Regions from separate parts of the Homo sapiens genome. Here region 2 is linked to region 1. Evidence: fine-mapped expression QTL. A gene starts in region 1. The other region holds a variant in brackets. All regions are shown on one strand. Distances are from middle to middle.

What was found.
Region 2: its variant is fine-mapped to the expression of RASGEF1B in cerebellum (GTEx, PIP above 0.99). The same link has a PIP of 0.9 or more in cerebellar hemisphere.

Annotation. Positions count from the first base shown.
Region 1 is chr4:81,470,581-81,473,491 of GRCh38, reverse strand. It overlaps RASGEF1B (RasGEF domain family member 1B), which reads left to right and starts at 1,585. Exons shown (of 14, transcript NM_152545.3): 1 at 1,585-1,722. RefSeq lists a silencer at 1,244-1,653.
Region 2 is chr4:81,722,193-81,725,103 of GRCh38, reverse strand. No RefSeq gene overlaps it. Among named protein-coding and RNA genes, the nearest start is that of RASGEF1B, 250 kb to the right of the region's middle. The variant A/G (reference allele first, on the strand shown) is at 1,604.

The DNA.
Region 1 (2,911 bases):
TGAGATGAACTGGGTACCTCAGTTGGAAATGCAGAAGTCACATGCTTTCTGTGTGAATCTCGCTACGAGCTGCAGACTGGAGCTGTTCCTATTCAGCCATCTTGCCAGCAATCCCCTGCAACTCTTAATTTCTGGCTACAGGATCAGTAATGTCAAGGGTGTAAGTGACTGGCCCAATGTCATATGGCTCGTTTGTTACAGAATCGGGATGCAAAAACTGAGCTTGAAAAATCAACCAACCAGTACAACCACAACAGCAGGGCAGGGCCACCCAGCCTCTGTGTTTCACTCTGCATGGCTGGCCCACCAAGTTCCCTTGGCCTTATGGCTTCTCATTTAAACTGCAGAGAAGCTATGGTTAAGTCAAAGGCTCAAGTAGGTTAGAGTGAATTACTGAATCAGAGGAGTCCTATTTACACAAAGGAGGGAAGGAGTATCATAAAGAGGAAGAAAAGTAAAAGGAGGCATAAATGAAGAAAATGAAAGAGGAATCCGCTAAGAATAGACAAAGTGAGCGTCAAAATGACTCCACCCCAGGAAGGAGAGGGGGAGGGACCCATGGAGCAGGAGGGAAAAGGATTCCTCCCCCTCAGTAATCTTAATTATAACAGTATAGGACAGGTATGAATAGTGTTGTTTTATATATGAGAAAACTGAAGCTCAGAAAAGCTGTATCACTTACTCAAGGAAATACAGTTGGTAAGAGTCTCCTAATTCTGTAAATTTTTTCTTTTCATAGGTCTCTTTCTTCCCTTGTTTCCATCATTATTTCCCTCTGGCCTCCTTTTATGTGTACAAAGTGAAGTACGGAGGTTTTTACCTTTTTTCTGAAATAGTTATCAAATATCCCATGATGGAGTGAGTACGTGGTTACCATGACAACACAGCCCTCACTGAGGACTAGCCTCCCTGCTTTGCCTCCGGAATCATGTTTCACGGAACAGGTTCCTCTCCGTGCAACTTCTAGCAGCTGTAATTCTACATTTTGTTTGGGTGATTATTTGCTGAATGTCTGTCCTCCACTAGACTATGTAAGTTTCACAATGGCAGAGACCAGCCTACTTTGCCAAGTGTGCCCCCAGCGTTTTGCACAGTGCTTAGCACCAGGATCTATGTGTTATTTGCTAAGCAAATGTTCTGTGGTTCCTCTCCGCTCTCTTCTGAAAGTTACATGGACAGTAACCTTTAGCTCACAATTATGTTAATAAATACTGTGTAACGAGTCGGGCCGGTATTTACAGATAGTATACACGTGAATGAACACACACACACTCACGACTGCACAACAGCCCGGGGCAGGTGCACTCAAGAGGAAACGCGCACAGTCGGAGCCAGCCTGACCAACGCTGTTAAACACCGCTGCGCTGGGCTCCGCGGGCCTCTGCCGCGTGGGAGGGCACCCAGGCTGACGCGCTGCGGGAGTCTGGGGCCCACTGGGACTTGCCTGCCGGGCCGGGTGGCGGCGGCGTGGGCGGTGAGCTGCGCGGTGATTGGCCCGCGCCTGCCGGGGCGGGGCGGGGCTGGCAGCGGGAGGCAGGCGCCTGAGCCAAGGGGGGCGTGCGCGGCGGCGGCTGCCGTAGTTTCAGTATAAACAAGGAACCCGACTGGTTAGACAGATTTTGTTTTTCTTCTTCCCGCGCGCTTTAGCTCCCTGTCCTTTGGTCGCATTTGTGGGCGCGCGGCACGCAGCCGGGAGGCCGAGGACTCGGAGTTCACCTGCAGGTAGGTTGTTCCCTGGCTGGGTTGTTCTCCCGGCTGGGGGACCACAGCCCGGAGCGGGAACTCCGGACCCTACTGCGCGCTGCGCTCTCCCTGGAGATCCCTGGGCCGCGCGGGGAGCGAGCGGGGCTCAGAGACTTCACCGGCTGCCGGGTGCGCTCCGAGGCGGCGGGAGATCCCGAGGCGAGTGAGCGCGAACGCGGGCGCCAAGAGCCGAGTTACAGCCCGGGACCGGGGGAGGGCCCCTGCCCGGCCGCTGCGGGTACCTGGGACTGCCGCGGCCCCAACAGGTGCGAGGCCGAGCCGCTGGGACCCGGGCAGGGCCAGGCTTGGGTTGGGTTGGGTTGTGCCTTCCCTCTTTCTCCCTGATCCTGCAGCCAGGCCTTCTGTCTCGAGATAGGTGGTTTTTGAGGATTTGTCTTGAGTTGTAATCGCGTCCATCATTTTTTTCATCCCTTCTTTCCTTCGTGTGCATACCTAGGTTGATTCTTCCACTTCTTGACCAGTTTTGTGTGCGTGTGTGTGTAGGGGGAGCTGTTTATTTTTGTTGTCAGTGCCATGTAATCTAAAGTCTGACTCGTAGGAAGGGACAAGGGAACAGAAGTCACATACTCGCCACCGACAAGGTGATGTGCTGTCATCCTTCGGTGTTCACCTGGCAAACTTGGGAGACACTGAGTCGCCTTGCTTTTGCCAGAGCTCAGTTGAGTCGCCTCGGGTCACCTGCCTGGGGAATCTCAGATGAGCTAGAGGTATCTAGGAGCCTCGCGGGCAGTCAGCTTAAGGGAGGTTCTTTCTAAGGGAGCTGTGAAAACAACTTAAGTGCTGCACCAGGGAAAAGGGCGAGACGGGGGCTGGGGTGCGCGCGCCTTTGTGTGTGTGTATGGACGTACCATTTCAATACTGCTTGCTGTCTTGCCCCAACCAAATCGGCGCAGTTCAGGCAAAAGCAACGTAGCTTAATCCTCTGACACTGCCGAGGGTGGCACAAGTGTGGCAGATAACACAAGGAGATTGTCTAGACGGCGATTTTCTCTTCGGAATGTAGATGTGTCCATCCTCCCTGATGAATTCGGTGGATATGGTGTATATAGATGAATATGCACACAAATTTGTGTATGTGTTTGGGCCGAACGCGTCTCCAAGGAGTCCTTCGTCAGCACCATGTGACGACGGTCAGGAACTGCTGGTG
Region 2 (2,911 bases), 250 kb before region 1:
AAATAGGAGCAGTGAACCCTCTCTTGCCTCCCAAAGTCTGACTAGGCTCAGGGACTTGGAGAGTTCATCTCAGAGGTGTTGTGACTTGTCCTAGATGACACAGAACATTAGAGGTCAGGCTGGGACTAGCAACTGGATCATCAAACTCCCAGGCCAATGCTGTCTTCATAGACCGCCCAGAAAAGGAAGACATGAGCAGATTTTTAAGAAGTTGTAAAATCAGGTTAAAATCAACCTGACACTTGAACAGCTTGCTTCTTCAAAACAAAAAAATGGTCTTTCAGGTATTCAGTAACTGCAGTGATTTGACACAGCAGCTTATCATTATTTCCTAGAGGTGATTCTTGTAGTTTAACCCAGAGAAATATTTCAGTAGTGCAGTCATCATGTATTTGCTGATCTTTATTGATGTATAAGAAACAACAGCAGTGATACATGCAAAAAGGAGATTTAATTGGGGAATCTTTTCCCATGTAAGCAACACTGTGCCATTCAAACAAGAAGCAGTAGTGCATAATTAAATCTATAATCATTGAAAAAATCATTTTAAAAGATAATAAACAGCTTGAATTTGGTAAACACTTCACTTATTCAAAATACTTTGATGAATTCTATCTCATTTGATCTTCACAGCTACTTCTGTATAACTTAGGAGAAAGTAGTAGTCACCTATTTTGTAGATGAAGAATCTGAAACCAGAGCACCTTGGCAATTTGCCCACAATTACACAGCGGTTACTACTAGAGCCAGGACTAGAATCTTGATTCTTTATTTAGTGCTTTTGTGTAATAAAGTTCACAATGTCCTATCTGAAATTTTGAAATACAAACAATAGCCTAAGTTTATTTATTTTTTTCTTTTCTAACTTATTTGATGGTAAAACTACCTGTTCTGAATGACTTTTGGTAACAAAACCTGTTTTGAGATGACAGGAAGCTCTGTGTTGTTCTCTTTAGGGAGAAGATTCATGTTTCAGAGCAGAAATGTTAATGCGTTCAGTTACAGGATGCTGCCCCAGACCAGTGTGTTCTGTTTGTTATATGAACCATATTGTCTTTCTAAAGTCCAAAAATTTTCTGAATTCAAAAGCGCATCTGAACAGAAGAGCTTTGGATAATAATTGAAGTAGACTGCCTGTGTCTTCTTCTAGTGAGGAAATGAGATGTTTACATTAATTAGATATTCTGGTTTATAGTCACCATAGGTACAATATGTGTATTGCTAATATTGAACAAATGAGACTGTGATGAAATCCCCTTAATATTGACTCAGCAGTTGTTGTGAGGGTTAAATAAAATAATTCAGGCAAATCAATTGGCATAGTGTCTGGTTCATAGGACATATTTCATAACTAGAGTGTTAACTGCTATCTTTCTTAATAAACTTTGTATCCTCGTATCACAGATGAGGAAATGGTAATAGGCAGAGAGGTTAAGTAACGTGCCCGAGGCCACACAGCTAGTAAATGACACCACCAGAACTGGACACCCAGGCTACCTCTCACACTCAAAGCATATGTATAACCAGTAGGGTATATATTTTCTTGGATCTTTCAAGAGGCTGTAGAAATCCTTCCAGATCATCATTATGAAAATTAATTACC[A/G]AATCATTGGACTGTAGCATGTGGAAGTGCTGTTTAATAGCCTGCTGGTTAGGCCAGATTTTGCTGGCTAAGGAGAGAGAGGGGGAGAGGGAGAGAGGGGAAAAGGAAGAGGAAGGGAGAAAGAGACAGAGAAGGATTAAACTAATAGAAAATACCTTACAAATGAAAAAATTGGAATGAGCATAGAGCAATTGGGAAATCTCTATTCTAGAGAATTATTACCAGTTCAGTCACTCCCTTGGATGGATTGAATGAAGTCTTTCTGGGAATTAGATCAAAGAGAAAGCACTCTCAGGGCTTTTCCCAAAATTCTGTGGATCAGGTTGATGAAACTTATGGTTGGGGGAAAATAATTTTGTGTTTAGATAATGAGAATTTCCTCCACTCCCACCCATTCCTGGCTTTTCTCCCTGTGGCTTTTTTGCCTACTTGGTTTCCTTACTCTGAACCTAGGAACTATCTTTTTTTAACCATGCTTTGGAGGGGAGTGCCTGCCCTTTGAAGGTGGGGGAGGCAGGTGGGCCCAGAGAGGAGAGGGCAAGCACAGAAGGCAGCAACACAGGAGATGAGAGGAGAGCAACGTTTGCCTCAAAAATGGATTCTGATCCCGAAGCAGCTTTCCTGCGACTACCCCCGTCCCAGACGGTGAGAGGAGAACTTGAGAGCCTGGTGCTTGTGGTCTGTCAGAACAGGCTGGCAAGAAAGTGAGCCCCTGGGAAGCTAAGCCTGACATTAAAAGGACTCGGTCTATCCTGTTGGCAGCTGCTGCAGCTCACCCTTGTGCGGTGTGGCCTCAGCGCATGTCTGGCTTTATTTGCTATTTGGGGCGCGGCACTTGAAAGGTGCCCCCTCCCCCAGACTCCTTGACATTTGTCCAGAGATTAATTGAGCTAATCCCCTTCTTGGAAGAATAGGTTGGGAAGTCTGTGTTCAGGGAGGGTAGGGAGGCAGGCTGGGACTGAAGAGGCATGCATTAATAAGGGTGCTAGGGCTTGCTGGACCCTTTGAAGGAAGAAAAGCAAATTTCTCTGCTGTTCCTGGACGAGGCTGACAGGTGGGCAGGGAGACTGCAGTTTCTGTGTTTCGCCTGGCTTTGCCAGAAGGTCTGTGCGCACCAGCAATAACGACTCTTGACAGCACCAGCTGTCACTCAGGGATGAATTACTCCCAGGACACCTTGGCCTGCCATTCTCATCTCTTGTACTAAGGGCAGAAGGTGAGAGCCCCAAGACAGGCTATCCTGACAGGGGAGGCACATATTACTTGAATACTTGTCTGGGATGGTTAGAAAAAGTGCATTTAAATTTT